Regions from separate parts of the Homo sapiens genome. Here region 1 is linked to region 2. The links come from fine-mapping of genetic effects on gene expression. A gene starts in region 2. The other region holds a variant in brackets. All regions are shown on one strand. Distances are between the middles of the regions.

The links. PIP is the estimated chance that this variant, and not a neighbour inherited with it, causes the effect.
Region 1: its variant is fine-mapped to the expression of OAZ2 in whole blood (TOPMed, PIP 0.98).

The regions. Positions count from the first base shown.
Region 1 is chr15:64,286,796-64,298,949 of GRCh38, forward strand. The region is part of intron 2 of CSNK1G1 (casein kinase 1 gamma 1); the gene reads right to left. Among named protein-coding and RNA genes, the nearest start is that of CSNK1G1, 63 kb to the right of the region's middle. The variant C/T (reference allele first, on the strand shown) is at 6,747.
Region 2 is chr15:64,697,270-64,709,423 of GRCh38, forward strand. OAZ2 (ornithine decarboxylase antizyme 2) reads right to left here and starts at 6,012. Exons shown (of 5, transcript NM_002537.3): 1 at 5,760-6,012. The coding sequence starts at 5,779. LOC124903507 (a long non-coding RNA gene) reads left to right here and starts at 7,274. Exons shown (of 3, transcript XR_007064679.1): 1 at 7,274-7,363. RefSeq lists enhancers at 2,295-3,131, 3,132-3,969 and silencers at 5,598-5,817, 5,828-6,147.

The DNA.
Region 1 (12,154 bases), 410 kb before region 2:
TACTTTGCAATAGTATAATATTAAACTTCACAATAATTAATTTACCAATGTTTTTCCTCCTCACCCCCTGGAAAATCTCTGACGATTAATGTTGGGGATGATCCACCATAAAAACTAGATGGTGTCACTTAAAAGATCATTAGTTATCATTTTATACTTTATTTATATTTCTTTTTCTGGTAACATGTAATTATATTAAATGCTAATGACTATCATCTTTGTATTATAATTAGACATTTATTCTGATGTCTTTTGTAACTATTTTTTTCTGGCTTGTGGTATTTCAACTATACATTTAACCAGTAACCGGTAAGACTACATGGCATATAATAGAAATAGCTACTTGTGATGTCTTGGATCTGGGCTGTAGTTCCAATTCTGTGACAAGCTGGTTGTTCTCCCTAGACCAAGTCACTTAATTTTTAATTTCTCTCATCTTTAAAACGATGACAGTTGAACTAGACAATGCTAAAGTTCCTTATAAGTCTAAAACTTAACTACTTTTGTTGATCTGGACTTCACATATTAAGTTACTCAAAGTTACCATAAACTTTTGGGAAGCCTGGGACCATTCTTGTCTCATTCTAAACTTACAGTCATCTTTTTCATATTAATTTTTGCTAATCTAGTTGTCAAATCTAAAATTGTACAGTAGAACTGGTTTGTGAACCATGGTTAGGACTTTTGTTCAACTCTTTGCTTATTTAATATAATGCTGAATCTTGATTCTGTTAACCAGCAATACATATTAGCTGCCCCACCCAAAGCACTGTGTTGTGTACAGCTTTCATCAGTATGTTCTTCAAAGGTTTGATCCAATTCACTGTTGAAGTGGATAGGACCAAAATACAGAATTCTACTGTTTAGCATCAATGAGGGCAATGATCCATTAACTCATTCTCTTTTATGAAGATGGTTAAAGGAATGACAAATCTACTTAATTATCTTTTCAGTCACCGCACATTTCTATATGTTACCAGAATACACAAAAGTATGTCAAATAAATGCCCTGCTGAAATAAAAATGTATAACATAGACATCTAGTTTAACATGGCAGAAAAAAATTGAGACATTTAGCTCTATTTATTTCCAAAACCCCACTGAAAGGACAAAGGAAACAAGAAAGGACAAAGAGAACAGGTGAGGAAACAGTAGACTAGAGATGTCAACATTTTGGAAGATGAGAATTGAATAAACAAATGGTAAATGACTTAGCAAAACTAAGCCATCCAGCAGAAAAGGAATCTAAACACAGAATTACCTAATATCATGACAAATTTTTTAATTGTTGGACTTGAGGAAAAAAAATTAATGAAAGGTATATTGATAACTAAGAATTTTTTTTAAAAATCAAGTATCAGCAATTTTTAATTCTGAGGGAAGGAATGATGGAGTCATACTAAAAAGGAAATACAGTAACAGTGCTCTCATAGATTGGTTGTAAACAATACTTCCACAGCCATAAAGCTGTAAATGTAAAAAAATTATTGAACCAAAAAATATGACATAAGTATATTGGGAGAATATGGGCAAGGTATGTACGTCATTAGGGATGGCATCTGTGAGACAATCAATAACAACATCTAATATTGAAAAAATTAAGAAATAATATTTAGAAATAAGGAGGTATCTAGACGACATGGATAAAATAATTGAACCACTTGCCTATAGGATTCAGAACTTTAGAATCTATGTAACCTAGTTATTGGAATTAAAGATAAATTATAAAAAATATTACATGATACTTTATAAAGTTATATATATATATGTGTGTATGTGTGTGTGTGTTTGTGTGCATGTGTATATATATATATTTCCTCTTGTCCTAGTAACCCCAACATAGAAAAAAAAAATTGAATCAATCCAGCATCACCTGCTCTTTGAAAGCCCACAACAGCTGGCAGTAAGCTCCACTTTCTTTGACAAAAGCTTTGCCGCCTTCTGGAAAAGTAGGCCATAAGTTCAGACAGTTTTTTCCTTAGGATGCATGATGACATCATGTAAATACTGCTTCTGAATCACCCTCATAAACACATCTTTCTATAAACTTCTGTTGCCCATAACCATCCTACTTTCATAGTCCTCCTCAAAAATTGTGGCCAGACATGGTGGCTCATGCCTGTAATCCCAGGACTTTGGGAAGCCAAGGTGGGCAGATCACCTGATCTCAGGAGTTTGAGACCAGCCTGACCAACATGGCGAAACCCCATCTCCACTAAAAATACAAAAATTAGCCGGCCGTGGTGGTGCACGCCTGTAACCCCAGCCACTCCAGAGGCTGAGGCAAGGCACGAGAATCACTTGAACCCAGGAGATGAAGGCTGCAGCGAGCCGAGATTGCAACACTGCACTCCAGCCTGGGCGAACAAGTGAGACTCTGTATCAAAAAAAAAAAAAAAAAATTCCGGAATTGTTTGGCAAGCCTGGAAATTTTACCATTACATTCTTCTGGTTAACCATTCAAGATGTCAATGCATAATCTTGCAAGTATTGTATCTGTGACACTTCTAAAATTACCATATTAATGCAATGCAGACTGTGTGTCACCTAATGTGGTTAGAACTCTTCATTTCTACTTTATTTTGATGGATTATGCTATTGACAGAAATAATTCTTCTCCAAGATCTGTTAAAACTGCTTAACCTTAACAAATTGTGCTTAAGTTAAACTAGGGTGTAATTCCAAAAGAAATTTAAACTACGATACTACTACAAACAAGAATCTCATATACATTTGATATTCTTCCAAGAAAATTAAAATGCACAACAAAAACAAAATAGACAAATGGGACTTAATTAAACTAAAAAGCATCTGCACAGCAAAAGAAATAAGAGAGTGAACAGACAACCTGCTGAATGGGAGAAAATATTTGCAAACTGCATCTAACAGGAAACTAATATCCAATTACAAGGATATTATAGTATTTACAATACTAATTGTAAGAATTTACAAGGAACTTAAACAAACAATAACAAAAAACCGTATAACCTCATCTAAAAGTGAGCAAAGGACATGAACATTTTTCAAATGAAGACATACAAATGACTTCATTTGAATGACATTTGAATGACATACAAATGACCAAGAAGCATATGAAAAAACGCTCAAAAGAACTAATCAGCAGAGAGATGCAAATTAAAACCACAATAAGATATAATTTTATACCAGTCAGAATGGCTATTATTATTATTTTTTGTTTTGTTGGTTTTTCCAATAAGCCTTTTACACTCCTAAGAATGGCTATTATTAAAAAGTCAAAAAATAAAAGATGTTGGCATGGGTGCAGAGAAGAGAGAACACTTATACACTGTTGGCGGGAATGTAAATGAGTGCACCCTTTATGAAAAACAGTATGGAAGTTTCCCAAAAAACTAAAACCACCATTTGATCCTGCAATCTCACTAATGGGTACCTACCCAAAGGAAAAGAAATCATTACATCAAAAAGACACCTGCATATGTTATGTTTATCGCCAAAAATACGGAAACAAGTGTCCCTCATGGATGATTTTATATATATATATACACATACACATACACACACACATTTTACACACACACACACACACAGGCAGACAGGCAATGAACTACTATTCCGCCCTTAAAAAAATAATAAAATTTCACGTTTTTTGCAGCAACATGGATGGAACTGCAGGCCATTAACTTAAGTGAAACAACTCAGAAACAGAAAATCAAAAAATGCATGCTTTCACTTATAAGTGGGAGCTAAATAATGTGTACACATGGACACAGAGTGTGGAATAATAGACACTGAAGACTTAAAAGGGTGGGAAAGAGGTGAGAAATGAGAAATTATTTAATGGATACAATGCATATTATTCAGGTGATAGTTACACAAAAAAACCCAGACTTCACCATTAGGGAATATATCCACATAACAACAAAAAAATTAGAATGCATTTTATCTAAAGTTATAATTTAATTTAATTTAATTCAATTAATTTATTTTTTTTGAGACAGAGTCTCGTTCTTGTCACCCAGACTAGAGTGCAATGGCACGATCTCAGCTCACCTCAGCCTCCCGAGTAGCTGGGATTACAGGCGCCCACAACCATGCCTGGCTAATTTTTGTATTTTCAGTAGAGACGGGGTTTCACCACGTTGGCCAGGCTGGTCTCCAACTCCTGACCTCAGATGATCTGTCTGCTTTGGCCTCCCAAAGTGCTGAGATTACAGGCGTGAGCCACCATGCCCAGCCAAGACTCCTATTTTTAATCACTTAAGCAGAAGAATGACATGACTTCTAAAACTTGTTTTAGTTTGTTCCATCCACAGAACCTAAAAATTTGTAAATTTATAAGAAAACTTTAACAAGGTTACAAATATATATCAATGTTTCTGGTTAATTAGGTGTTTGGCTGATACACTTTCATTTGTTTAAAATACCATGATTTTCTAAGAAACTATTAACTTAAAAGCAAAAATTTGATTTTAAAATGGCTTCATTTTGAACTAGAGAAGAAATACCTTTAAATTATGTTACATTTTGGTCTGGGTGCAGTGGCTCACGCCTGTAATCCCAGCACTTTGGGAGGCTGAAGCGGGCAGATCACTTGAAGTCAGGAGTTTGAGACCAGCCTGGCCAACATGGTGAAACCCCATCTTTACTAAAAATACAAAAAATTAGCTGGGTGTGGTGGTGGGCACCTGTAATCCCAGCTACTCAGAAGCCTGAGGCAGGAGAATTGCTTGAATCCAGGAGGTGGAGGTTGCGGTGAGCTAAGATCATGCCATTGCACTCCAGCCTGGGCAACAAGAGTGAAACTCCATCTCAAAAATAAAATAAAATAAAATTATGTTTCATCTTAAGCCTGCATTCTCTCAGATGATTTTCAAAAATGTTTAAAGCAGCAGAATCATACCTTTCAAACAAAATCTTATTGAAAACTCAAATGTATAAAATGTATAAAACAGATAACATGGAGAGTTCTGCCTGCTCACTTTTCTTTTCTCATTGACTTGGAGTGGAAAATAATGGATCTAAGACTGTGGGATATAATATGAAATGAACTGCTTTAGATAGTATTCATCTGTAAATTGTTAATAATTACAACTGCCAAAAAAAGAAAAGCTAGTAGCAGAAGTTAAAAGTTCCAATAAAAGCAGGGCGCAGTGGCTCACGCCTGTAATCCCAGCACTTTGGGAGGCCGAGGCAGGTGGATCACAAGGTCAGGAGATCGAGGCCATCCTGGCTAACATGGTGAAACCTCGTCTCTACTAAAAATACACATATTAAAAAAAAAAATTAGTCAGGCGTGGTGGCAGGCGCCTGTAGTCCCAGCTAGTCGGGAGGCTTAGGCAGGAGAATGGTGTGAACCTGGGAGGCGGAGCTTGCAGTCAGCCAAGATCGAGCCACTGCACTCCAGCCTGGGCGACAGAGCGAGACTCCGTCACAAAAAAAAAAAAAAAAAGTTCCAATTTAAGTTCACAAGTGACAGTTCAGTAATTCAGACAAGGAAAGAACAATATGCAGAGCCTGTCATATAAATCCTACATCAATCACAGAAATAAGTGTCTTACTTTAGAAGCCATGCAGGAGTGTCACAGAACAAGCTGCTACCCTTAGCCAATTTATTTACCTTTGTCAGAAGTATCCTGTGTTAATGCATTTTTGCATATTTCATCAGACACCAAAGATGGAAAAGATCAAAAAGGTTAATTTGTTGTGCCTCCATTTTGTTGTATGCAAGTAAAAACATCCTCTCACTCTATCCTACTTCAAAAGGATAATATGAATATTATTAAAATCATACGCCTGTCTCTCTAGTCTAACAGGTCTCCCATAAACATACGTGCACCCCTATGTGGATGTGAAAGAAATATCACCAGCCAGGTGCAGTGGCCCATGCCTGTAATCCTAGCACTTTGGGAGGCCGAGGTGGCTGGATCACTAGCTTAGGAGATAGAGACCATCCTGGCCAACTTGGTGAAACCTGTCTCTATTAAAAAAATACAAAAAATAATTAGCCGGGCATGGTGGCGGGCACCTGTAATCCCAGCTACTCAGGAGGCTGAGGCAGGAGAACTGCTTGAACCTGGGAGGCAGAGGTTGCAGTGAGCCAATATCGCGCCACTGCACTCCAGCCTGGTGATAGAGCGAGACTCCATCTCATAAATAAATAAATAAATAAATATCATCTATCTACTTATTCTTGCAACTAAGAAAAACATCAGCAATTATTTGTACATTGAGGATGTATATTTTCTTAACTCTAGAGGAAAATAATTTTATTTTAATGTTTACATGATTCTTTCCAGGCCTGATTCAGCAGAAGGCTCAAAACTTTAAAAATGAGAAAGTTCTCACAAGATTCCCCATGATTTTCAGTTAGTATCAATCTATAAAATCTGTTTTCATCCCATCATGTCCTCCTACCTACACAATCACTATCCATCAATTTTCCCTTCTGTCTTAAATCTTCATAATTCTCCTTTCATTGAGGCAGTACACAAAAGACTCCACAGAAATAATCTTTCCATTGAAAATGAGCAAAGGCCACATAGAAATACTCTTTAAAAAAATAAGCAAATATGTGTAAGTATGTTTAACTTCACCTATGAACACATACACATTTAAGTAATACCATTTTCCCCTATCAGACTGTCATAGATGAAAAGATTCTTGATATTGTTTAAGATTTCTGAAGCACTGGAGGAAATAAGCACAAGGACACACATACACACAAAGTGAAACATCTTTTTGGAGGGCAAACTGACAATGTGTAA[C/T]AAAATTGCAAACGTACATATCCTTTGACACAAAAAGTACGCTTCCAGGATGTAGTCTAAGAAATTAAACCAACTTTAAATACAAGGAGATCGAGTAGACCAGTGCCAGTCCGTGGCCCTGTTAGGAACCAGGCTGCATGGCAGGAGGTGAGCAGTGGGTAAGCAAGCATTACCACCTGAGTGCCACCTGAAAGATCAGTGGCAGCATTAGATTCTCACAGGAGTGCAAACCCTATTACTGTGCATGTGAGGGATCTAGCCTACATCTAATACTTGATGATCTAGGGTGGAACAGTTTCATCCTGAAACCATCCTCCACCCCTGGTACATGGAAAAATTGTCTTCCATGAAATGGGTCCCTGGTGCCAAAAAAGTTGGGGACTGCAGGAGTACTGTATTAATTATAGTATTAAAATACAAAATAATTTTTGTGTATATTGATAATGGCTAAATTGAATACTATAGAAATATTTAAAATTGATGAGATATATTTAAGTTGAAACAAGATGTTCATGCTCTATTAAGCAATAAAAAGAGGCTTCTTTTTTTGAGACGGAGTCTCACTCTGTCTCCCAGGCTGGAGTGCAGTGGTGCAGTCTCAGCTCACTGCAACCTCCATCTCCCAGGTTCAACTGGTTCTCCTGTCTCAGCCTTCCGAGTAGCTGGGATTACAGGCGTCCGTCACCAAGCCCGGCTAATTCTTTGTATTTTTAGTAGAGATGGGGTTTCACCATGTTGGCCAGGCTGGTCTCAAACTCCTGATCTCAGGTGATCCGCCCACCTCGGCCTCTCAAAGGGCTGGGATTACAGGCATGAGGCACCACGCCCAGCCATAAGAGGAAGCTTAGAGCACAATTTGATTGCATTTCTAAAATATGTCCTAATACACATTTTTGAGCTGTAGAAAATTAAACCATCATTACTGGTTATCTCCACAGACACCTCTAAAGTAGAATTAAAAAAAAATTTTAAGCAATAAGTGTATTTTCTTTTTAAAAAAATTTGCTTTAATGAAATTGTTTTGCTTTGATTACTACTTTTTGCTGATTACAAAATACACATGGCTCATTTTAAAAAGATAGGGAAGGGCCAGGAGTGGTGGCTCATACCTGTAATCCCAGCACTTTGGGAGGCCAAGGCAGGCAGATCACCTGAGGTCAGGAGTTCAAGACCAGCCTGGCCAACATGGTGAAACCCCGTCTCTACAAAAAATACAAAAAATTAGCTGGGCGTTGTGGCAGGTGCCTGTAATCCCAGCTACTTGGGAGACTGAGGCAGGAGAATCGCTTGAACTCAGGAGGCGGAGGTTGCAGTGAGCCAAGATCGTGCCATTGCACTCCAGCCTGGACAACAAGAGTGAAACTTCGTCTCAAAAAAAAAAAAAAAAAAAAAAAGAGGGTCGGGGGGTGGCCAGGCGCGGTGGCTCATGCCTATAATCCCAGCACTTTGGGAGGCCGAGGTGGGTAGATCACAAGGTCAGGAGATCAAGACCATCCTGGCTAACATGGTGAAACCCCATCTCTAGTTTGGTGTGATTTCTTAATCCCTATCTCAAGCCTAACTTTCTAAGTCTCAGATATGCATTTCTGCATATGTGTCACCCAGTCCTCAAATATTCACAAACTCTATCTTACCTGCCTTCCCAACCACTCTCCCTAGTCCTATATTTACTATCTCAATTAACTCATTTATGCCTAGTGTTCCATTATTGGAACGCTAGGCTGGTGGGAGTTATTTATATACACTGCTCGAGGTCATCACCAAGGTCTGATTTTTCACAAAAAAATTTGCAGCTTCCGGCATAAATGGGTTTACATCTTCCTCATTTATAAGGTCTCTTCAAGCTGGCACATTTAGTCATCTTTGACTTCTTCCCATCAAATAATTAGTGACTAAATCCTGCCTAAAGTCTATGTCTAAAATTTCTAATTTACCCTGTCCTCTCTCCATCTCACTTCCATTTTCAGAGCTAAGACCAAAGGCCCTGCTACTTCTGACCTGGACAATTCAGCCTTTCTTGAGTACCCATTACATACCACACACAGTGAAAGGAATTAGAATATGAGGACTAAAAAGCAAAGTAATACCCTTACACCTATCTTGGGAGAGAGAAATGGAAGAATAAAGTACAACATGATAAGTATTACAATTAGAGCAAAATCTACAAGATGTCAACTTCTTTCCTATTTGATCTAATCTTACAATACAACCCGAATTCTCTTTCTGGAATATAAACTAGATTATGTCACTCTGTTGTAAAACTCCTGATGATTCGACCCCATTGCCTACAGGATAAAGTCCAAATGCTTTAATATATGCAAACACTTCACAATTTCGTCCCAACTTACCTAAAAGCTTCATTCTATTACTTTTCTTTCACTTCACATCCTATGACCCAGTCATGTATAACTAAATGCTGCTGTGATATGCTGGGCACTTGCACAGTATCTAGTGATTGTGTATCCTGCACAAGCTCTTCTTCCTTATGTCTACCAGCAGAAATCCTGTCCTATCATCAAATCATACCTCCTCTTTGAAGCCTTTATTAACCTTCTCTGCCAATGTAGTTTCCATACAATCTGGTTTTTTGTTTGTTTGAGACACGGTCTCACTCTGTCGCCCAGGCTGGAGTGCAGTGATGTGATCTTGGCTCATGGTAGCATCAGGCTCCCAGGCTCAAGCCATCCTCCCATCTCAGCCTCCCAAGTAGCTAGGACTACAGGTGCATACCACCACACCCAGCTAATTTTTGTATTTTTTGTAGAGACGAGGTTTTGCCACGTTGCTCATGTTGGTATTGAAATCCTAAGCTCAAGTCATCTGCCTGCCTTGGCCTCCCAAAGTGCTGGGATTACAGGCATAAGCCACTACACCCAGCCCCCAATCTGCTATATTATCACTTTGTATTGCAATTTGTTTTTCTCTGTCTACCACTAGACTGTGGTATTTGTAGAGACAAAAACTATATCTTCTTATTTCTATCCTTCCCAGAGTCTAGTATCAGTAAATATTCAAGAAATAGTTGTTAAATGTATGATGAAGGCTGGGTGCAGTGGCTCACGCCTGTAATCCTAGCACTTTGGGAGGCTGACGTGGGCAGATCACCTGAGGTCAGGAGTTCGAGACCAGCCTGGCCAACATGGTGAAACCCTGCCTCAACTAAAAATAAAAAATTAGCCGGGCATGGAGGCACACGCCTGTAATCCCAGCTACTTGGGAGGCTGAGACAGGAGAATCACTTGAACCCGGGAGGCAGAGGTTGCAGTGAGCCGAGATTGTGCCACTGCACTCTAGCCTGGGCAAAAAGAGCAAAACTCCATCTAAAAGAAAAAAAAAAAAGAAAACTGTATAATGGGGTGGAAACATTTGCAGAGAACCAAAATGCACTATCGTTACTTTTTTTTTTTTTTTTTTTTTTTTGCTGTTTGGAACCGATAGGTCTACTATCTACCACCACCCCCACATAAACCTGGAGCCCAAAGAAAGTATGCTTTATTTTCCCCCCTCTTCCTATTCATCAGCTTTTTATCCTTCCATCTCATAAATAACAGTAAACAATACAGAAAGAATCCCTGCCCTTTAAAGGGCTTATATTCAAGTAAGGAGAGGCAATTAATAGGGAAACATACATATGGTCATTTCAGATAGTGATGAATGCAATGAATAAAATAAAGCAGTTTGACGAGACAGGATGTGCTAGAGAAGAAACGTGCTATTTTAAATGAGAATGAGGAACAAGTGATAGAATGTTTCTCTGAGAAGGTAAGACATAAGCTGAGGCCTAAAGGATGAGAAACAACCCACTACGCAAAATTTTAGGGAAATAATTCTGCAAGCAGAAGGAATTGCAAGTGTAAAGGCTCTGAAGCAGAAATGCACACGGTTGGTCAGGTGTGGCGGCTCACATCTGTAATCCCAACACTTTGGAAGGCCAAGGCAGGAGAATCGCTTGAGGCCAGGAGTTCAAGACCAGCCTGCAAAACATCATCTCTACAAAACATTTAAAAATAAAAAAATTAGCTGGGCGTGTTCTTATGCACTAGCTATTAAGGAGGCTGAAGTAGGAGGATCGCTTGAGCCTGGGAGTTGGAGGCTGCGTGAGCTATGATCATGCCACTGCACTCCAGGGCGGGTAACAGAGCAAGACCCTGTCTCTCAAAAAAAAAAAAAGAATAAGAAGAAATGCACTTGGCTGTTTGACAGACTGTGTGTCTAGGAAAGGAAATTAGTTTAGAGAAGCAGAGCTTTGTAGGTGGTAGCCATGATGTAGGCTGACTGCACCTGCCTTGACTTTGGAATTTTGTAGTTTACAATCTTCTCCTCGCTAATATTAGAACAAGAAAATGACGGAATGGGGTATGCAGCCCACTCTATTGTCAGGAAGATGCCAGATAATTCTGAAAGTATCTTTTCTAGATACAAGGCCATAACAGTATGGTCCCAGGGCTAATGAAAACTTGATAAGCAGAGAAGAGTAAAAGCACATGAAAAGAAAGACAAGTTCTTCTGACTACAGGCAAGTCCAAATGAGAAACATCAAAATTATCTCAGATTCAAAGAGGAAACAAAACACAATACTACTCTGAAAATATATATGGGCTATAAATGTATGCTTTTAACTGAATGAATTTTTCCCTTCCCACGTAAACTTATAATACAAATCTAGACTTCAGTGATTAAACAGATTTCCACTTTTAATTCACCAAGGTTTTTCTTCACTTTCACAGAAATGAAACAATTGTCTGATGTTTTGAGAATTCAAAGATTTAGATGCTTTAGAAACTGCCTCTTAGCAATCATTTTATGGATGTTTATGTCATAATTATTTAATCCATCCAAGTAGTACTGTGATGTTACAGTCAATTTATGACATAAAGAAATATTCACAGAACTATTCGTTAAAGCAACTCTGTGATTGCTAGAAAGTAAAGCAGTAATTACACATCTTACTCGTATTGTAAGTAGCATCTGCTGGCTTTGGTAACCCGAACACAATTCTAAATATAAAGATCCTTTCATTATCCTAATTAAGTCCTGAATTTCCAGGTTGTCAGCCTTCTAACAGTAAAAATAAATCCATTCTCATCATTCTTAAATTCAAATGGTCTCTGGCTAGTATAGTGATGTTTCTCCAAGGCTCTCTATGGGGGATCAGAGATAAGATTTTGTCCATGTTCTCTATGCAGGACCATCACAAGTAGCAGAGGTGGTCAGGCGTAGTGGCTCAGCCTGTAATCCCAGCACTTTGGGAGGCCGAGGCGGGTGGATCACTTGAGGCCAGGAGGTCAAGACCAGCCTGGCCAATATGGCAAGAGCCCGTCTCCACAAAAATACAAAAAAAAAAAAAATAAGCTGGGCATGGTGGCACATGCCTGTAAGTCCCAGCTACTCTGGAGGATGAGGCACAA
Region 2 (12,154 bases):
TAGTCAGTTTTGATTTACATACAGTTGGTCCTCTATATCCACAGGTTCCACATTCGTGGATTTGACCAACCATGGATCAAAAATACTCAGGAAAAAAATAAACAACAGCATAATAAAAAAAAGTACAAATAAAAAGAGCACTAAAACTATTTACATAGCATTTACATTGTGTTATGCATTATAAGTAATCTAGAGATAATTTAAAGTATATGGGAAGATATATGTAGGTTATATGTAAATACTACACTATTTTATATAATGGACCCTTGGATTTTGGTAAGGGGAAGGTCCTGAAAGCAATCCCCCACAGATGGCTACCAAAAGAGTACAGAGTACACAGAGAAGAGATTCCATATAAAAGTAATTCTGTGAGTAACTTCCACTTAGCTACATCTAAAAAATACTTGAATTCAAATTCTCCTTAATATACTTCTGATCATGTTTCACTTGAATCAGTAGCCTCCTTCGCTCATTCAATTCTGCACCCTTTCTCTCTGGTTTCTATTACCTGTCAGAGAAAGTCAGATGGCCTTGGTATTAGCTACCTTTTGGTATCAATTGAAGACATGAAAACCACATTCCCAACACAGTTCTACATTCATTTCCCCCTCTCAACCTCTTCTGACCCATTCTTGTCTCAGGCCCTGCCTCATAGAACACCCAAAGGTGCCCTCACTTCCCTCATACAGGTAGCTTTTACTCTGAGACTAGGAATGTCTTTGATGACTAATCCCTACGCAAAAAGATGTGCCATCACTTAGCAAAATAGAAAGTAAGAAAGGTGAGAGGGTGATGACCACCTCCAGTCTAGTGTGGCTGTAGAGGCTGATTTCCAGCTACCGATGCCCCTTCCATCTGAGAAAGGGCCCCTGGGCAGATGCCAGGCAAAAGTCATTTCACTAGGGCTATTCTGCGTTCCACAGGGACTCTTCTTGCTAAGCACAATTATAAAGAAAATGACATCACCACTCTGAATCACAGGCTGAAAGCAAAATTGGGTTTTGGTTGATTCTCCACAAGAAACACAGTTATAGTGATAGCTAGAATATCTGTGCCTTTGGGGTTTGCTTATCACACAGCTGATATTGGTACATATGCCAAAGGAACGCACAATCACATATGCTACCAGAGGTGAGTGGATAGCTAGGTAATCAAGCTTTAATATAAGACTTTACTTTTACATATTAAGTACCTCAATCTAGTTTGCAGAGTAAGGTCATCACACAGTGCCAGCCTCTTCCCAGGACAGAATTACATCATTGTTTATATAGTATCAAAGGACTAAGAAATTTTCTTAAGGTTTATCTTATACAAAGCATTTTACACTACTGCTGCTAACCGGACACTACCTGTTTTGTTCACTTTAAGTGACAAAATTCTTGCCTGCCTACTTGTCCCTTTCTTGTCTATAACTTTTTTTTTTTTTTTTAAGAGATGGGGCATCTCACTATGTTGCCCAGGCTGGTCTTGAACTCCTGGGCTCAAGCAATCGTCTCAGCCTCCCAAAGTGCTGGGATTACAGGTGTGAGCCACCATGCCTGGCCTGGTCTGTAACTTTGGCTTCATAACCTTCTAAATCATGGCACCAACTTGAATCAACACTGCATACTCTTTCAAAAAGGGATGAATTACTCATTTTGTTTTTCTAGAAATGCACATTTGTAACATCCCTCTATCCCACTCCTCAGTCCCCTTTTTTATATTTTTGAGCAGCTCTGAGGCTAAATTTGGATTTCTTGGCAGAGTGAGGAATTGCTATTATTAGCCCACACTGCTTTCTGAAGCATAGCTCTGATTTTGGGGGATTCCTGACTATACTAGGAGAGTCTGTGTCTGTCTCTCTCTCTCTCCTCTTTGACTCTCTCCTCTCTCTCTCCCCTCTCTCCTCTCCCCCAACCCTCCTACCATAGAGTGACCTTGAAGGCACATCATTGGAAAACTGGCTCTCCCTACCACCCCATGCCCAACAAGCCATATTGTCAATAAATAAGGAATAACTGAAACCAGACCCTTTAGGAAGAGACAGAAATTCCATTACCCAGGAAACCACTCAGTGAAGATGCTGATAGTTCTGATATGTTCTTATGCCCTGCCCCCTTCCCCCAAAAAACCACCTGCAGAACCAAATGTTTCTCCTCAAAGCCCATCAGCACAGATTGATAATAATATCACTATCAAGCCAGGGCTAGTGCTTCTCTACATACTGTACTGTCACAGGTACAAAGCAAGCCCTGGACAGATACTGTCTCCCTGCCCCCACAAATCCAGGGAGAAAAAGACCAGGAAGCTTGATTTCCTTGGATTTAAACCTCATGTTCAAAAAGGATAATAAAGGTGCTCGTACTTGTATCTTCTTCCCTCCCCCACCATCAGGAATTCTGACATTTTGGAAGTACCAATCAGAATAACACTGGAAAGGAAGAGCCTTGTTTTCAAAACATAGTGCCAGCTCCTCTGCAACTATTTCTTCCAGGAAACCAAGCCTCCACCTCCTGAGTTTTTCACTGGAGCCAGGGAAGCTGAAAATCCCATCCCCCACCCAATGGGAGCTAAATTCCCAGCCAGCTCCCCACTCTATGGATATGAAACACTCGAGAACACTGACTGGGAAGAACATCCGGCTCTTATCAGAATCCCTAGTTAGGACTCTACCAGGATTCCTTTTAGAAAGTTAGGGGCAGGCCCAAGGAATCTAGGAAACACGCTATGGAAATGGGATTGCCATCACTCAAAGAAACCAGACACCCTGCACACAACACCCCACCCCCAGGCCAAGTGGAGGAGCCTGATCCAAGGCCTAGCTCCTACCCAGGCCCTGGCAGGCCAGTTGGCTCCTCTCTCCACCTGCCTCTCATACAGCCAGGCCCCTCAAATTACCAACACGCTAAGCAAGGGCCCTGGAGACAAGCAAGCCTGTTTTGCCACTTAGGAAGCTGGAAAGAATTTTCGAGTCAAGTTAACCCAACCCCCTCTTCTTTTCACATGTAAGCACACTGGCTCAGCCAGAACTCAGGTCTTTCAACCTCACAGTTGGTGAAGACTCTTACATGTTGGTTCCAAGTTGCTCAACTCTCAGGGCTCAGCCTACAAAAGACTCGGCATTTCGACCAGCTCAGTCCAGAGGACTCCAGAGAATGACTGCTGAGACCACCCCACTTTCCAACCCCCACTACAGACACACAAAAAGAACAGAAAAAAAAGTCTATCTCACATACCCCTTGAGTGGGTTTTGTTGTAGGTCTCTCTGCTCCCCTCCACCCCTGTGCTTCATCCTGCCCTCTCTCATACCTGCCATCTATCCTCAGCACACACGGCGCCTTTGCCACAAGTAACACCTTTGCATCCAGCACTCTCCGTGTCTATATCCGCCTCCACCTCCTCAGCTCCCGAGGGGCTGGGTTACAGAAGATGGAGTGAAAGGGGGGAATGCAGAGGGGATGGACATGGAGAGTCTTGGAAAAGGAAACTCTAACAGCTGATGGGTTGTAGGGTAAAGAGAACATGGGAGGCAGGGATAACAGGTCAAATAAGACCATAACAAATTATCAAACGGCGAGTGAATTTTCTTCCTGCATGCAAAGAAGAAATGAGGGGGAGGGCACCAGTTAAGAGTCTGAGACTTGGGGGAAGAAAATGGCCAATGGCTGAGAACTGAGTACAGACAGGAACTTCAGAAGCTGTTGCAGGTATTGTATCTTGGGCACTTCTGGACAGCACCTGAGAGAGAAAGACTAAGAAATCCCTGAAGAAATTGAGCCCAGGAGGCAGAGGTTGCAGTGAGCCCAGATCGCACCACTGCACTCCAGCCTGCGCCACAGAGTGAGACCCTGTCTCAAAAAAAAAAAAAAAAAAAAATATTCCTCGAAGAAAATTAGGCCTTTGTCAGTAGAAAAGGGCTGACACCCACTACAGGAATAGGATGGGAAAAGCTGCAGGAAGGAAGCTGTGGTTTTTAACCCCAGCTTTGCATTATAAAGAATTACCTGGGGAGCTTTAAAACTATATGCTAATAATCAGGACACTCTAGGCCAATGAGACCAATCTTTGAAGGTAAGGCCCAAGTGACTGATTTCTCAAATGTGAAGCCAGGGTAAGAAACACTGAAATACAAGAAAAGCTGAAAACCCAGTTGGAATATTTAAGGCTGGTGCTGTTAACAAGTGGGAAAGGAAAGTTGAGAGACTATTTCAGTAAGAAGAGTGCCCAAGTTTGAGAGGAATCCTGAGTGGCAGTTAGAGGGCTCTATGCAAAGAAAAGCAATAAAGAAGGCAATGCATTTGAGAGGAACTAGTCTAATTCTGAATAGAACATGGCCCAATTTAAGGAAGATTTACAGGGAATGGATCTGCTTGCAAAATAATGAGGCCCAAGTGAGAGGCAGAGGCCATAAGGCCAAATCTGGGGACAAAAGGTCTGGTGTGGGGAACTAATGAGCTTCAGACACGGTTTGGACAGGACAGCAACAAGTTTGGGGAAAAAATGAGGAAGAGAATTAGGTCCAAATTGTAAATGAAAGCCATTCTGATGTATAAGGAGCAACTAGGATTAAAAATTCCGGGGAATTAGGAAATTGTGGAACAGTTTCAGAGAACAGAGGCAGAAATATGGGATATATTAAAATTTGAGGGAGAGATAGGTGAGAAGGGTTGTCTTGGAGAAAGAGAGGCATGTAGAGAAAGGAAAATTGAGGAACTATCTGCAGGGGGAAGGATATACCATGCAAGTTTGGAAAACCAGGGTGCTCGGTCTGAGAAAGATGTGCAGCCTTTCTCTAATTAATGGGGGAAGACTAGGGTCGGGTTTTGAGGGAGGAAATTGCAAAGATCTAGTGTCCAGAATATAGAGCTTGGTTTGAAGGCACTGGAGGTACAGGGGGAAGGTTCACTGGAAGCGAGATGGCTGGGTCCTGTGATCTAATGATCCAAAGACGGGATTCAGTTAAGAGGGGAAGGAGAAGGATGAGTTCCAGCTGAGAAAAGATGTTTAGAGGGTAAGAATGTTTCCAAGAGTGTTGGGGGTATACCATTGGGGCAACAGGATGGAGCACAAGAATCAAACCTGGTGTTTGATAAATAAAAGGAATGGCGCTGGGAGACTGGGAAAATGGGGCCTAACTGGGAGAGGGGTGTGGAGAGGGGAAGGTGGGGGAAAGATGAAGCTGAAGTATGGGACCAGGAGGAAGAGGCTGGACATCTGTGTAAGGACTGCTAGGCCTGAAGAGAATGGGGGGAGGGTGATGAGTGGGGGTAAACTGAGAACTGAAGGATGGAGGTTGACTTTGCGGGGGGCAGTGATATGAGAAGAGTCTGGGTGGGGGGTGCAGTTTTCATCAGGGAGGGAATTCAAAGGGAAGGGTGAAGTGACTTATAAGGGGAGTAAGAAAGATTTGAGGAAGACAGGAAACAATTTGGGGAATCTGGATGCCGGGGAAAGCCCAGTTTGGGGAATGGGGCACAATTCGGTGGGGCTGAAAGAAAAAAGGGGACTTGCTTGGAAGGTTGGGTTCCGGCTTTTGGGGGCTTTAGGGGAGGAGAAGGCCCGGATGAGGGGGATGGGCCCGGCTGAAGAGGGGGCTAAAGGACAGAAGAAGGCCCAGTTGCAGGGCTGAGGACCGGACTAGGGTGGCTGAAGTGGTGAACGGACCTGGCTGGGGGCGGATGGCCCCGCTGCGGGGGGCGGGGGCCGGCTAGGGGTACGTGAGAGGCCCTCTGGAGCAGATGAGGGAGGATGGGGGCGGGGAGCCTGGGCCGGGCCGTTACCTGTCCTGGGTGTTTATCATCCTCGGCGGCTCTGCTCAGGGTGGGAGGAGGCGGCGCAGGGAGTGGATAGATGGATGAGTGGGTGGGTGTGGGGTCACGCGCGCGGGGTCGATCTCTGCGGGCTAAGTCCCTGTCAGGCCGCGGGCCGAGCGCCTCCTTTTGCCTCAGCGAGCGCCTGCCTCCAACTGACCCTCCCCGGCCGCCACCGCCGCCGCCGCCGCCGCCGCCCCGCCCCCGAGTGCCTCATCTGCATAGCCCCACCCCAGCGCCGCGCGGTGTCCTGGGAAACTGGGGCCCACAACAAAGGGCAAAGCACCGCCCCGCCTCCGCGCAGGCGCACCACGGACCGATCGTGGGGGTAGGGCTAGGGGGTCCGAACGAAGGGCAGGCTGTGCAGGAGGCCATGACCAAGGCGGTGGGTCTGCCCGCAGCTGCGGCAGCGCGGCCCAGAAGATGCGTTGTGTTTCCGGTAGTTTTCTGTGAGGATTGACTCAACCTGGTCCTCATCCCTATTCCTTGTTGGCGTGGGGCCGAACAGGGCTGTGCCATTTGGGAGGATATTAAAACAAAATCAGAAATCTTAAGAGAACTACACACATATTAGCACCATTCCTAGTCTGAGTCCAGGCCCACAGATCTGTTATCTCAGCTCATAATGCAGATCAATAACCTCAGCTGTCAGGGTAGATCAACAATCTCAGCATCTCGCACACATCTCATGTCAATCGTCAAGGCTGCTCCAAGCACTGGCTTAGGTCATCTGAAGCCAGAACTCTGTAGATCATGAGCACAGTCACAACAAGACAGTCGTGGAAAGCGTCGTCACTAACTTGTTCACGGTCACTTCAGATCACAATCAGTGCAAGTTACTTCAATCGATCATGCAAGGTTACTAGTTCAGTCACCTCCATTCATTATCCCTACTGGTCCTTATGACAGATTAGTGCCTGAAGGCCACAGTCACCGGTGCGCAGACCCCTCAGATCACAGTCCTTGTAGGTTACAATCACAGACACTTCAACACAATCATCAAAAGCCCCGACTCTGTTCACAGTCAACCCAGATTGCAATCAAGAGAGGTCACATTATCTCAGATCACAGTGGGTCACTCTGTCACCTCAGATTACATCCATTCAGTTATTCAACAAATAATTATTTTATTTATTTACTTATTTTTGAGATGGAGTCTCTCTCTGTGGCCCAGGCTGGAGTGCAGTGGCACAATCTCAGCTCACTGCAACCTCCACCTCCCGGGTTCAAGCGATTCTCCTGCCTCAGCCTCCTGAGTAGCTGGGATTACAGACATGTACCACCATGCCCGGCTAATTTTTGTATTTTTAGTAGAGACGAGGTTTCACCATGTTGCCCAAGCTGGTCTTGAACTCCTGACTTCAGGTGATCCACCTGCCTCGGCCTCCAAAAGTACTGGGATTACAGGCATGAGCCACCGCACCCGGCCAACAAATAATTATTGAATAGCTACTTACTGTATGCTCCAGGCATGTGCTAGAGTCCAAGAATACGCCATAATCAACCAGGCAAGGTTCCTGCCTTGGATGTCACAATCCGGTCAAGGGGAGAGACACAGGTCATCACAATACCAGGTAAGTAAGTGCTCAATCTGAGGAATGCCACAGAGAAAGTAATTTAGGGAATTAGGGACAGCTTTGCAGAAAGAGTGATAACTCAGAGAAAGGGTGACACTCCAGATCGGCGGTCACTATGACTTTCAGTTCACAAACATCTCACATTGGAGTCATCTCAGGATATGGTTACTCTCCTTCACAAACAGCATGCTTTTGGGTTTTGGATGATGGGGATGGAGGCACAGAAGGAAGGCTGGAGCTACCAAGCTAAGGCTTTTTCAACACAAATTAAAGTGGTAAATGATACCGAAACTGCCCGGATTATCACTAGATATTCAGGCAAGGCTGGTCTCATACTCTGGTTCACTTTAAGATCCTCCACTTTGTCCCTCAGCTATCCCTACCTACTCCTCCAGGTTCAAGTCAGGTATGTTCTTACATTAGTACTTAGCAAAATTGGACATTTAAACCCAGCCCTGATCTACCCCATCGCATAGTCCCAGAGACCTGGGCAATCCTCCTGGACCCTCAGAGGGAGCTGGAATGTCTCACTTCTGCCAGCCCATTCCTGGCCAAGTAACCCTTTAACCTGAAGGACAGTTTTTGACCCATGAATCAACAAATATTGAGAACTCACTATGTCAATAATAGCGACCATTTATTGAGCATCATGGGTAAAGTACTAAATTTTAGAACAGCTCTCCACCCTCGTTTTAAGGATGAAGAGAATTAAACCTCAGAGAGATTTATTCTGTCATCCAATATTTATTGAGGGTCTGTCTATACCAGACATGTTAACATGCTAGCTTTAATTCAAAGCGATTAAGTGGTATAGTTAGAATTTGGATCCCAAGTTGCCTGATCCTGTGCTTTCTCTGGATCTGCATGGTGGAAGAGTCAGAAGCTCTCTGGACAGCTTTCTGTTTAAAGGAGTGGCCACCCTGATAGCCACCTGGTCAGCAAGTGAAAAATTCACAAAAACTGAGGTCTTCAAATCTAAATTAATTAACATGAAATAAAGTTAAAAGTTCAATTCCTCAGTCCCACTAGCCACATTTCTTTTTCTTTTGTTTGAAACCGAGTCTCATTCTGTCACCTAAGCTGGAGTGCAGTGGGATGATCTCAGCTCACTGCAACCTCTGCCTCCCAGGTTCAAGCAATTCTTCTGTCTCAGCCTCCCGAGTAGCTGGGATTACAGGCGCCCACCACCACACCCGGCTAATTTTTATAGTTTAAGTAGAGACGGGGTTTCACCATGTTGGCCAGGCCAGTCTCGAACTCCTGACCTCAAGTGATCCACCTGCCTCGGCCTCCCAAAGTGCTGGGAATTACAGGCATGAGCCACCGCGCCCGGCCCACTAGCCACATTTCATATGCTTAATAGCCATATGTGGCTAGCAGCCACAGTATTACACAGTATACATATGGAACATGTCTATCATCACAGAAACTTCTACAACAGCACTATATCCCATCACCCCTCTATCCCTGTCTACCCCAGTCACCACCACAGGTTCAAGTCCCTTCTCATCCATTGCCCTCACACTGGCAATCTATCAGACTCTGCTTCCTGCTCCTAACCATACCCTCCCACTGTGCCTTCTGCAACGTGTGATCAGCAAACTCTTCCACATCCTCAGCCTTTTCTCAGCATCCTTGCTTTATCTGAAACTTGGCTATCCACTAACCGCTGCTTCTCCAGCAGCTCTATTAGGTGAATTCTGTTTCTCATTCTCACGTGCCTCAGTGTCAGAAGTGGGTAAGTGTATTCCTCTCCATCCCAATGCCATTTCTAGACCAGTGTTTATCTTCCCCTCCCTCCCACAAAATCCCTGTTCCATTGGGGCTTCACCCTCTAGATATACTATCTTGGTTAATGTCATTAGCCAGCCTCCTGGTTGATGCCCCTTATTTGGCTCATGGCTTGCTGCCTCTCCGCCCCAAATTTTGTCATATTTGGTGAGCTCAAGGTCCACATGATGGCCTCTCAGCCACGCTCCTCTCACTTCCTCGACTTTCTCATCTCCGGTAAGATTTTCAGCACTCCACTGTAGCTGCTAACACACCCTCAACTTTGTTTTCACCAAAAATCATTTCACGTCCAAAATATTGACTCTCCAACCATAACCTTTGCCTTAATTAAACCTTTCAACAAGTCTTTGACCTGTATCAGGAGCTTAACGCTTGACCTCACTAATTCCTCACTATTCATTAGCCCTAAGTTTTTTGTTTGTTTTTTTTAAGAGGAAGAAACTTGTTAAGAGAGATGAGAAAGTAACCTGTCTATGACTGAGCGTGGCAACTCATTCCTATAATCTCAACACTTTGAGAGGCCGAAGTGGGAGGATCACTTGAGCCCAGGAGTTTAAGATTAGCTGTGGGTAATGAGGAGACCCTATAAAAATTTTAAAAAAAAGCCAGCGTGGGGACACACACCTGTGGTTCCAACTACTCGGGAGGCTGCAGTAGGAGGATCGCTTGAGCCTGGGAGGTCAAGGCTGCAGTGAGCTGTGACTGCACCACTGCATTCCAGCCTGGGTGACAGACTAAGACCCTGCCTCAACTTAAAAAACAAAAGAGGCCGGGCGTTGTGGCTCACGCCTGTAATCCCAGCACTTTGGGAGGCCGAGGCGGGCGGATCATGAGGTCAGGAGATCGAGGCCATCCTGGCTAACATGGTGAAACCCCGTCTCTACTAAAAATACAAAAAATTAGCCGGGCGTGGTGGAGGGCACCTGTAGTCCCAGCTACTCGGGAGGCTGAGGCAGGAGAATGGCGTGAACCTGGGAGGCGGAACTTGCAGTGAGCTGAGATCACACCACTGCACTCCAACCTGGGCAACAGAGTGAGACTCCGTCTCAGAAAAAAAGAAAAAAGAAAACGAAAGGAACCTATCTAATGTGTCAAAGCTTTAGTGCAAATACTTGGGTCCAAACTCAGTAGTCACTGTTACCAATTGCAGATTTTTACATAGGACTGAATTATATGGTAAGCCACAGAAATTTGGAATAACTGAAACTCTCCTATTTGAGTCCACTGCCAGCTAATGATACTGTTTTTTTCTGTTTCCCTTGGCAAAGAGAGATAGTAGTTTATTAGAAAAGTAGTCGAGAACCATAAGTGTGAAATTATGTTAAAATAGTTCCCACAAAAATCATTATTTCTTTATGCATATTTTTAAAATTTTAACAAAGATTGTATACATTTATGGTGTACATCACGTTTTCATATATGTATACATTGTAGAAGAGTTAATCAATGATTAAATTTTTTTTTTTTTTTTTTTTTTTTTGAGACGGAGTCTCGCTCTGTCACCCAGGCCAGAGTGCAGTGGCACGATCTTGGCTCACTGCAACTTCCACCTCCCAGGTTCAAGCGATTCTCCTGCCTTAGCCTCCTGAATAGCTGGGATTACAGGCTTGCGCCACCAAGCCTGGCTAATTTTTGTATTTTTAGTAGAGACGGGGTTTTGCCATGTTGGCCAGGCTGGTCTCGAACTCCTGACCTCAAGTGATCCGCACACCTCAGTCTCCCAAAGTGCTGGGATTACAGGCATGAGCCACTGCACCCGGCCAAATCAAGCTTTTTAACATATTTATTATCTTACATCCTTATCATTTTTTTGCAAATATACACTATGTTGTTAACTCTAGCCATCATGATGTAACATAGATCTCTTGAACTTACTCCTCTTGTCTAACTGAAAATTTGTGTCCTTTGACTAACACTTTTCCAATTCCTCTACCTGCCCCCGGCCTCTGGTGACCATCATTTTACTCTCTATTTCTATGAGTTTGACTTTTTGTTTTGTTTATTTGACACAGGGTCTCATTCTTTTGCCTAGGCTGGAGTGCAGTGGAACCAGCATAGCTCACTGGAGCCTCAAATTCCTGGCCTGAAAGGATCCTCCTGCCTCAGCCTACCGAGTAGCTAGGACCACAGGCACATGCCACCATGCCTAGCTAATTGTTTTTTACTCTTTTCTCCAGAGACAGGGTTTCCCTGTGTTGCCCAGGCTGGTCTCAAACTCCTGGTCTCAAGGGATCCTCCTGTCTCAGCCTCCCAAAGCAATGAATGGGATTACAGGTCTGAGCCACCATTCTTGGTCTAAGCTTGATTTTTTTCACACTCTACATGTAAGTGAAATCATGCAGTATTTCTTGTTTTGTGCCTGGTTTATTTCACATAACATAACATCTCCCAGGTTCATCCATGTTGTCGCAAATGATACAGTTTCCTTCTTTTTTTAAGGCTGAATAGTACCCCGTTGTCTATATGTACATTTTTCTTTATTCATTCGTGTGTTGTTGGGCACTGTGGTTGTTTCCATGTGTTGGCTGTTGTGAATAATGCTGCAATGAACATGGGAATACAAATCTCTTTGACATGCTAATTTCAGGTCCTTTGGATATATACCCAGTAGTGGGATTCCTGGATCATAAAGTAGTTCTATTCTTAATGTTTTTTATTTTTTATTTTGAGATGGAGTCTCACTCTCTCACCCAGGCTGGAGTGCAGCGGAGCGATCTCAGCTCACTGCAACCTCCGCCTCCCAGGTTCAAGCGATTCTCCTATCTCAGCCTCCGGAGTAGCTGAGATTACAGGCACACGCCACCACGCCCAGCTAATTTTTTGTATTTTTAGTAGAGACAGGGTTTCACCATGTTGGCCAAGCTGGTCTCAAACTCCTGACCTTGTGATTTGCCTGCCTTGGCCTCCCAAAGTGCTGGGATTATAGGCATGAGCCTCCATGCCCAGACTATTCTTAATGTTTTGAGGAACCGCCATACTGTTTTCCATAAAGGCTAT